Regions from separate parts of the Homo sapiens genome. Here region 1 is linked to region 2. The links come from fine-mapping of genetic effects on gene expression. A gene starts in region 2. The other region holds a variant in brackets. All regions are shown on one strand. Distances are from middle to middle.

What was found. PIP is the estimated chance that this variant, and not a neighbour inherited with it, causes the effect. A credible set is the group of variants that fine-mapping cannot tell apart.
Region 1: its variant is the best candidate, but not a certain one, in a credible set for the expression of CBX6 in lymphoblastoid cells (TwinsUK, PIP 0.72).

Annotation. Positions count from the first base shown.
Region 1 is chr22:38,934,298-38,939,533 of GRCh38, forward strand. No RefSeq gene overlaps it. Among named protein-coding and RNA genes, the nearest start is that of APOBEC3A, 21 kb to the right of the region's middle. RefSeq lists an enhancer at 2,026-2,847. The variant G/A (reference allele first, on the strand shown) is at 3,038.
Region 2 is chr22:38,870,120-38,875,320 of GRCh38, forward strand. It overlaps CBX6 (chromobox 6), which reads right to left and starts at 2,097. Exons shown (of 5, transcript NM_014292.5): 1 at 2,003-2,097; 2 at 1,783-1,826; 3 at 1,573-1,638; 4 at 1,361-1,427. The coding sequence starts at 2,071. RefSeq lists silencers at 1,719-1,768, 1,869-2,018, 2,049-2,308 and enhancers at 2,303-2,853, 2,854-3,403, 3,240-4,439, 4,256-4,435.

The sequences.
Region 1 (5,236 bases), 64 kb after region 2:
GGGACCCTGGAATTAATTATTGACATTTACCTTGGCTTGGCCCCCAGCAGCTTTGATGCAAACTCCACCCTTGTTGGGAGCCCCATCCCCTGCCCCACACCACCCAAGAGCATTTCTTTTCTTTTCCTTTTCTTTTTTTCTTTTTTCTGTTTTTTTTTTTGAGACAGAGTCTCGCTCTTTTCGCCCAGGCTTGAGTACAGTGGCGTGATCTCAGCTCACTGCAACCTCCGCCTCCTGGGTTCAAGCGATTCTCCCTGCCTTAGCCTTCGGAGTAGCTGGGATTACAGGCGCCCACCACCACGCCTGGCTAATTTTTTTGTATTTTTAGTAGTGATGGGGTTTCGCCTTGTTGGCCAGGCTGGGCTTGAACTCCTGACCTGAGGTGATCCGCCCACCTTGGCCTCCCAAAGTGCTGGGATTACAGGCATGAGCCACCATGCCCAGCCCTTAATAATGTTTTCTGATGATAAAAACAACACTCCCTCATCACAGGCAATTTGAAAAGCAGAGAAAAGTTGCAAAAGGAAATTATCCCTATTACCACCTAGAGATGGTGAATACTTGAATTTTTTGTTTAAACTTTGAATTTTATTTCAAATTGACAGAAAATTGCATAGAAAGAGGATCCGTATACCCTTTACCCAGATTCATCAGCTGTGAACATTTCCCCGGTATGCTTTAACCCTGTGTTTGTTCTATCAATCATGTGTTTCTCATTCGGATTATAAAATTGACACTTTGCTCTATTCTAGTGTTCCTCAGCTTTGGTCTCTTTGGTGTTTGACCACGATTATGTGACAGATGGAGCCTGGCCACCATGTCCCTGGCTGTACCCCAGGCCCCAGCCTAGCCCTCATTTGCACCATGGGGTGTGATCATCCCCAGCTCCCGGGCACCGTGCCATGGCAAAGTCAGGTGTGGCCATGCCAGGGCTGCGGGCAGCCTGCCAACAAGACTGCAGGTTCTGCCTTTATAGCAGGGCGTGCACCAGCGCTTCACTGTTCCTGCCTTCTGTCCTTGTGACCTTGTAAGATAAGGGCGTTGGGCAAGGAAAGTGCAGGTAGGAGCAAGGGAAATGAAGGAGATGTGAATGAAATAGTTCGATTCAGGTAGATCTGGGCATCACCAGGCCCGAGGAAAGGTGTATTTTCACTGATGAAGGAAACCATGTTTTTGTTGTTGTTGCTGTTGTTGTTTGTTTTTTGTTTGTTTGAGACAGAGTCTTGCTCTGTTGCCAGGCTGGAGTGCAGTGGCGCACTCTCGGCTCACTGCAAACTCCACTTCCCGGGTTCAAGCGATTCTCCTGCCTCAGCCTCCCAAGTAGCTGGGATTACAGGGGCGCACCACCACGCCTGGCTAATTTTTGTATTTTTAGGAGAGACGAGATTTCAACATGTTGGCCAGACTGGTTTTGAACTCCTGACCTCAGGTGATCCGCCCGCCTCGGCCTCCCAAAGTGCTAGGATTACAGGCCTGACCCATCGCACCTGGCCATCGCACCTTAAAACATTTAAGACATGTTTTAAATGCTGAAACCAAATGGCCAACGATCGTATCTAAAAGGGAAGATATAATCAGAGATTTTGAGACATCTTTTAGTTCCCTAGGAATGGAATCCTCCTGAAAATATGGAAGTTGAGTATTCTTTCTTTTTAGTTTTTTCAGCGACGTCGTGGATACAATTTCTTCAGACTTGTTCTACTTTATTCATGTTCTACATTATCAGAGATTCTGTGGATGCATCACTTTAATGACAGTTATAATATTTTAAGCATTGTTAAATTAGATGGCAGTTAGAATAAGAACAATCAGTAAGCTGGACTTAAGGGTTAGTAGAACACTCTTCTCACAGTTGACAGTGTACTCATAGGAAATAGTATAACCTTGGCTGAGGTACCTGCTTTTTGAGTCATAAGATCTGAAATAGGGACATTTTCTGTACATTTTTGTAAAGTTTGCTGAAGTAGTTTAAAACCCATTTTGACATAGTTTCAGTTCCACCTGAATCAGCATTCTGAAAAGAACATTCCAGGGGTTTCCTGAAACTTACAGAGCTGAAAAGCTAGTGTGCCTCCCGGAGTCAGGCTGGAGAAGCAGATTTGGGGGCTGCAGCAGAGGTGTCCTGGCTGGGGTGAAGGGCAGAGCCAGTTCCTGGAGGGAGGGAGCCCAGAGAAAGGGCAGGTGGCCAGGGCTGGGCTAGAGAAGACCTAGAAAGAGGCCAGGAGGAGAGGAGGAGCCTTTAGGGGAAGGAGCCGAGTTCACCACCCTGGAGGTCCCAGGAAGCAGAGAAAAGGTGACGCTGACTCACTGCTGCAGGGGTCGGGAGTACCTGGGTCTCAGCTCTGCCCTTGAGTCCATCACGCTTCGCCTCTGTCTCTGAGTCTGGCCTCTGCATCTTCCCGCTCCCATTACCAGTTTTGTTTGCATTTTCTGTCCCAGGAAGCTCTCTTTGGCCTCTGGAGCTGCGTATATCTGTAGACAGCGGACCCTGCTGCCACATGGCTGGGCCTGCCGCTTCTGTGGCTTGGTCACACTCACATGCACGTACGTGTGCATGAACACGCTCGCACACACCCACATGCATACACGTGTGCACACATGCATGTACAGGCACACACGCACACATGTGCATGCGTGTGTACGAACACACACATGCACACACGCAGAATCAGAAAAGGATCCTGCCCATAGCTCACCCCAGACTCCCCTGGGTGTCGCATCTTGTACCACCCAAAGTCAGGGTGTCCCAGCCCTCTCCAGGAGGCCTTTACTTCCCAGGCTCTGTCATTCCCAGAAGCAGGGGGCTAGCATGTGACAAGGAGTGCTCAGGCTCAGGTATGGTCAGTCTGGGCAGCAGGGACCAAATCCCAGTGGAAAGGCGCAGGCCGGTGAGTGAGTGAAGGCCTGGTGTCCATCTGATGCTTCCAGAGGGCAGGGGCCAGCTTGGACTTATCTGCACCACACAGGGCCCCAGCCCAGGGCTTCCCACGGCATGGGTGAACTGGGTCAGGTGGGCTTCACAAGGTGTGGGAAGAGA[G/A]AAGACGCTGGCCTGGGAATTGGCCACCTGGCTTTCTTTCCTGGCCCTATGGAGGGAAGGGAAGGAACATTGAACTCCCCCAAGTCAGGCCCTGGACTGAGTCTCCCACTCAACCGTAGAAGCCATCATGCTGGGAAGTGGTTTTATCCCCGTTGAAGAGAGGACACAGTTCCACTGAGAGGTGAGGTCGTGATGAATGTGTCCATGGGTGTGTGCGTGTGTGTGTGGGTGTGTGCGTGTGGGTGTGTGTGTGGGTGTGCATGTGTGCATGGGTGTTCGCACGTGTGCATGTGGGTGTGTGTGCATGTGGGTGCACGTGTGTGCATGGGTGGGTACATGTGTGCATGGGTGTGTGCACGTGTGAGTGTATGCATACATATGTGTACGTTGGTGTGCATGCATGTGTGTATCCATGTGAGTGCATTGTGTTCACGTAGGTGTGTGCATGGGGGTGTGTGCATGTGTGTGCATGTGTGTGAGTGTGTGTATGTGGGTGTGTGCATGTGTGTGCATGTGGGTGGGCGCATGTGTGGGTGTGTGCATGTGTGTGAGTGTGCATGTGTGTGCGCACGTGGGTGGGCGCATGTGTGGGTGTGTGCATGTGTGTGTAGGCATGTATTGAGGGGCTGGGAAGTCTAGTCAAGGTGGGGATATGTCCTGGTCCTATTGAAAGTCTCACTGCAGCACCTCTGTAGACACTGATTGTAGGGAGAAGATTGAGAGTCAGAAGGTTCTCCACCATCCCAGTGAGAGGTGATGGTGCAGGCTGTGGGGACAGAGATTAGCAGGCGAGTAGGGATAAGTTTGGAGGTGGCATTGGCAGGACTCAGTGATGAACTGGGTGTCAGGAGAAAGAAGAATCCTGGTAACACCTTGGGCTGGGGCTCAAGCTCACTGCTCGCTGGGTGAATGCTGGTGTCCTGTGTAAAGTTGGTGAAGTCTGAGGAAAAATACATTTTTGGGGGGGAACCCACAAGGAATCAGGAATGTGAATTATGATGCCCATCAGATATCGAGAGTGGATGCCCAGTAGGAAGTGGATGTCCGAGTCTCGGGCTGAGGCGAACTCCAGGACCGGAGAGGTGAGTGGTGTGCACATGGGGCGGGCCGATGTCTCCTGGGAGAAGGTGGGAGACACAAGTGGGGAGGACCCCCAAGTCTGGTACTGGTGTTTACAGATCCTGGAGAAGAGGAGGAGCTACTGAGTGAGCAGAAGAGAGAAAGCCGCGGGTCAGGGGTGTCACCAACAATGAGAGAGGAGGCGGCTCAGGAAGAAAGTGTGTTCAGCCGGGTCATCTGCTGCCGGTGGAGGGGCAAGATGAGAACTGAAAACTATCTCTTTCTCCTGGCAACCTGAAGGTCGCTGGTGGTGTGGCCAAGAGCAGTTTTCTTGGAGCGTTGGGGAGGGGACAGGAGCCAGATTGCAGGGGGATGAAAGTGAACAGGAGGCAGGAAACTGGGACAGAACATGTAGAAAGATTTTATATCTATAAATCATATATAATTTTTTTCTATGAAGGGATGCCAAGAATGGAGGAAAATGTGGCTCCACAGGGTGGAGATAGCAGTCCACGTGGCTTGCTGATGGGAAGGAGCCTCCAGTAGGGGCGATGGTGTGGAAAGCTACAGAGGGAAACCCACTGAAGGAGAGGCCGAGCCCTGAGCAGGAACAGAAGGCTGGGCTTTGACAGGGCACAGACTATGGCAGGCCGCGGAGTCAGGAATTGTGTCTGTTTTTGTTTGAGTCTGTATCCAGCTCCTAGAATAGCACCTGTCACATAGTAGCTGCTCAGTAAAAACAATGTTGCATGAATGAATATAGACACCAAAGGAGGCAGGGTTTTAGAGGTGGAGTGAAGGTGAGTGTGATCTTTTCTGCTTTTTGGTGCTCAGTGACGGCTGAGGTAGGGTCATGGGCTGAGGACTGGGAGGGGATTGGCTGGGAACGGGTGACTGCGGGAGCAGCTGTGCAGGAGAGGAGCTGTGCTCACTGTGCCACGGGAATGCCAGGAGGATTCATTTCTCATCCACTGGACAACACCAGCTGAATCGAGGCCCATCTTTCCACCCCTGAATTGCAGCTCCACCTTGGTCATATACCAGCTTCCCAAATATCCTTGATTCTGTTTGTGTGTGGCATTTTCCTCATCTCTATTTCTGCTCCTGGTGCATATACTACTCTTTTGATTACGGTAGCTT
Region 2 (5,201 bases):
TGACATGGACTACTCAAGGCACAAGATGAAGAAAAGGAGACAGGATGAAGCCAGGAAGCTGGACCTCGGGTAAGTCACTTTCCCTTCCTGGGCCTTGATTTTTTATCTGTGAAATGGGGATAATACTCCTTACTTCTTGGAACTGTTGAAAGAATTAAAGGAGATAATCCATGTGGGGGCTCAGCCCTGTATTAGGCCCACAGCCAGCTCAGGAACCAAAAGAACTATCAAGAAAAAAAGGCGTTCTGTGTATCAATGCTCATGGTCATACTCGCTTCGCCGCTAGAGGGTGCCCCAGCTGCACTGAGAGGCTGTCACACAGCCCACCAGCCTTCCAGCTGCTCCGCCCATCCCTCCCCAAGAGAAGCATCAGGGTTAAGGTTACTCCCTGGATCCCCTAGGATGTGCGTCGCTTGAGGGTGGGGGTTATAAAAATATGAAATTCTGGAAACCAACATTTCTTTCACTTCTGCTTCTCTTCTCCGAAAAAGAGTCCTCCCACAAAGTCACCGGCTGTCGGGTGGGAGGGGGCCCTGAGGCATCCGTAGCACTACAGGAAGACAGGGGGCCCACTGAGTCCCACCTGCAGCCGTGCCTGCCACCTAGGGCCATCTTGCCCTTCCTTTCCCAGACTCTGTTTTTCCTTGTCAAAATAAAATAAAAACCCAAATCCTCCAAGATGGCTTCCTCTGGAAGTTCTTCCCTCCCTAGCAGAGACTAATATGCTATGCTCTCACTCCCACATCCCCATCCCCCAGAAATGGCCGGGAGTGGGGGGAAACTGAGGCTCAGAGCCCTAAAGTTAGTGGCCCAGCCTGGGTGATAAATTCAAAGTAAAATGATTTGAGGTCAAATTCAAGTTGGATCCCCAAGAAAGGAGGGGAGCCATGAAGAACAAATCCTGAAAGACTGAACGGGGGAAGCTGGGGGCAGGGAGGCAGGTGGTCCCCCAAATCCTCTCCTTGTGCCCTGCCAGGAGGTGGGACCCCACTCACTCTCCCCCTGGGTTCCAACTCCCAGCACAGTCATAACAGCTCAAACAAATGCCCCCTTCCCATGGGCATCCCCCACCTGCCTCAGCCACCCCCTTTCCTGGAGCCCTAAAGGCATCCCCAGCCCCTGGTTTCAACAGGGAGGATTATCCCCAGTCCCAAAACCCTCTTGTTGAAGCTGATGCTGGCTGAGGCCTGCCATCAGGGGCTTCTGGGGGGGCTCACAACCACCCCCTGCCCAGCTGGGGCCCCTCTGAAAAGGCCGGCCCGCTTGGGCGGCCGCGTATCTGTCCCTCCCTTCCAGGCCCCGTGCTGTGCCGGGGCTGGGGGCCCGAGAGGGGGATGCTGCTGGGGCTGGGCCAGGTTACCTTCAGGAGGAAAGTTTTGGGTTTGGGTCCCCTCTTCTTGGGCCCATACAGCTCACGCTCCCTCTCCCTGCGGCCGAAAAACACCAGAGGTTAAAAAGAGCCCCTTCCCGGGCCCCACTCCGCGCTGCCCTCCCCGGCTCTCCCGCTTCCCCGCGCGGCGCCCCAGCCGAGCCTCGGCCTCGCAGCCCCTGCCAGCTTCCCCAACAACTCACTTTTGTTCGAAGGCTGCAATGAGCCGCGAGTCCAGGATGTTCTCCTCGGGCTCCCAAGTGCTGTACCTGCCGAGTCACAAACGCACAAAATCAGGATGAAGACCAGAGAGGGACAGGCACGCGGCGAGAGCAAGAGCGCGCACCCCCACCCCAGGCCCCGGTGCCCGCTGCCTCCCCTCCCGCGACGCCCCCGGACCCCGCGACACTCACTTGATCGCCCACCCCTTCCATTTCACCAGGTACTCGATGCGTCCCTGAAAAACAGAGGGGAGAAAAACGGGGGTGGGGGTGGGGAGGATGCGGGGACGCGAGGAGGCGGCGGCGCGGGGCTGGGCGAGGGAGCCGGGCTAGCGGGACCGCTTCGCCCCGAGGGCCCCCGGCCCCGGCCCCGGCTGCGGACAGCGGCGGCCCGCCCCGGGCGGCGGCTCACCTTTCGGATCCGCCGTTTGATGATGGATTCGGCCGCGAAGACCCGCTCGCCCACTGCAGACAGCTCCATCTTGCTCAGCGGCACCCACAGCCCATAATACTCCCTGCGCCCGCGGCCGGTGCGGCACCGCTCGCGCACGCGCCGCAGCGCCCAGGCCCCGGCGGGCGGGAGCGCGGCGGGGCGCGCGCTCGCGTTCCAGCTGCGGGCCGTCACGTGATCCTCGCGGCTGGCGCGCGGTTGCCAGGACCTCCCCCTCCCCCGGGGCGGTTGCTAGGGAAAGTCGGCGCTCGCGGGGCGGGGGCGCGCGCTGGCTCTTAAAGGGGCCGCGCGGGCGGAGGGAGCAATTGCCGGCCGACCCGATGGGTGCCCGGCTTGTGGGCACGCTGCGGCCTTACGCTTATCACCCCCCCTCACATCTTGCCGGCGCCCGATCGCTGACACCCTCTCCTTGCCTCTTAATCCCCACGCGAGTCTCGCCAGGCCCCGGGCGGAGAAGGGCTGTGGAGCCCGAGTCTCGCCGCCACCGCGCATCTCCCGCAGCAGCCTGCAAACAGTTAAATATGATGCAGCAGAAATGCAGTTGCTGTTGCCTTGCCAGGCCTTGCGGGAATTTCTTTAAAACATCGCCCCCCACCCATTATTTATGTATTCGTGGGAGGGTGGTTTTGTAACCAGTTCAGAAGAGTTAAAACAAAAACGCCACCGCAGGAAGGGGGTGTGCGGCGAATGGGGCCGAGGAAGGCCGGAGTGACCGTGGGCATCTGTCTGCGGCCGGGGTCTCGGGCGGCACCTGTCCTCGCCCAGGAGACCGGGGAGGATTCGGCGGGGCCGGTGTGGCAGTGGGGGAGGGAGAGGGACCGCGGGCAGGAACGGGCTCCCCGCACTCCGCCTTGGGCCCACAGCGGGTCATCATCTGGTCATTCGGCAGAAACCGCCTTCGCGGTCATATCTGTGTTTTCCGATTCCCAGCACCCCTCCCGGCCCCCCGACCTGGCCGCGTCCCTCTCCCCGCCCGCAGCTGCGCGAAGCTTCCGCCATTGCTCTGGGGAGCCCAGATCCCAGCTTCCCACTTGAGGAGGGGCGGGGGATCGAGCTGGGGCTGTCCAGGAACGGACACACAAAAAATAGCCCTGCCGCGCAAAACGCTCCACTTTTTAAATGTTGAAATTACTTGAACTTTATTTCCCATTATGTTAGTAGTCTTGTTCTTTGTAAAACAATTTTAAAAATACAGATAAAACAACTGTCCATAACCCCCATAAAACCATTGTTAACATCTTCACCAATCTTCCAGCCTCTGCTCTATGCGTACATAAACTCACGTACACCTATGTATGTATGTATATACATACACATACACATTGTCTGTAGATTTAATTTTTTAACAAAATGGGATCACGCTATTCACACTGTTCTGGAATCTGCTTTTCTCCCTTAATGCTATAAAGTGGACATCTTTCAGTGTCATTAAATACAGATTTCACCATCCTTCCAGTGACCACCTTGGGGCTGAGATGGGGTGGGGAGGAATGGGGATTGTGAAGAGTCAGGGTTGTGTCTTGCGAACATCAATGGCTCATTAGGAAAGATTTTTGCGTTTCTGTGCTACAATGCCAATTCTTGGGTTTCAAATCCACCATAGCAAAATGTTAGTCTTTTTCTCCCAGCAGATTTGTCCAATTATTACCTTGAGAGAAATCCCTCTCCTCACTTAAAATCAGTATGTTCCAGGGAAACAGCTATTTGCTGGCCAGCCCAAGGTGAGCTGCTGTGGTAAAAATAGAAATGTCCTCCTGGGAGATGTGGGTGGTGGTGGGTGAGCAGGTGAGAGGAGTGGGTATGACAGTGTGTGTGTGTTCAGGCTGACGGAGACAGGCGGGGGATGAAGCAGGTGAGTCCACTTGTTGATTCATTCAGCAGTGTTTGTGAGCCCTTGTGAAGCACCAGGCTTTGTGTGAAACCATCAGGAAACAAAGGTGCCCCAGGCTGAGGAGCTGTCAGTGGAGTGAGAACGGCACCTGTCACACAGTGTGACTAATGCTAGAATAAAGGTGTAGGAGTTTCGTGTTGCTGCTCTCACAAATTAACACAAGCTCAGTGGCTTAAAATGACTCACATTTGTTATCTGATGACTCTGGAGGCGGGAAGTCCCAAATCAGTGTTACTGGGCCCAAGTGAAGGTATCCTCAGGGCTGGTCCCTTTTTGGAGGGTCAAGGAGAGTATCTGTTCCGTGCCTCATCCAGCTTCCAAATGTTGCTGGCATTTCTTGGCTCATGGCTTCATCACTCAAATCTCTGTTTCCACGATCCCTTTGCTCACTTCCTGCTTCTTTCTTTCTTTTGTTTTTGTTTTTGAGATGGAGTCTTGCTCAGTCACCCAGGTGGGAGTGCAGTGGCACAATCTCGGCTCACTGCAACCTCTGCCTCCCGGTTTCAAACAATTCTCCCAGTCTCAGCCTCCCAAGTAGCTGGGATTACAGGCATGCGTCACCACACCCGGCTAATTTTTGTATTTAGTAGAGATGGGGGTTTCACCATGTTAGCCAGGCTGGTCTCGAACTCCTGACCTCAAGTAATCCACCCGCCTCAGCCTCCCAAAGTACTGGGATTACAGGCGTGAGCCACCGCACCTGGCTTCTGCCTCTTTCTTTTAACAACACTTGTGATTACATTGGGTCTGCCCAAATAATTGAGAATGATCTTTCCGTCTCAACCTCAACTTAATCAGATTTGCAAAGACCCTCTTACCATAGGGTAACATGGATGGTAAGTAAGGTATCCTATCCACAGGTTCTGGGGGCTAGGGGCTAGGACACGGACATCTTTCGGGGAGGCATTATAAGCCTGCCACAAGAGTCTGTACAGGATGTCTTGGGAGTGGACATAGGGGAGCAACCTACCACGTGGAGGTGAGGCTGTGAGGGCTTCTCAGAGGTGGAGACCTCTGATTTGGGGCCGGAAAGACAAATGGGAATTGGCCTACAAGTGAAGAATGGGAAGGGTGTCCCGGGTGGAGGTGTCAACTTGAACAAGCACATCAGAGCCTGAGAGTGTGTTTTGGGGATGGGAAAGAAGTCTGCTATGGCATGGGTTGGGGCAGTACGGCAAAGGATGGCAATGGAAAGATGGGTTGGACTGAACTTGGGAAGGGCCTTGAATGCTGGGTAGGTTTGGACTTTGTCTCAGGCAGTGGGAAGCG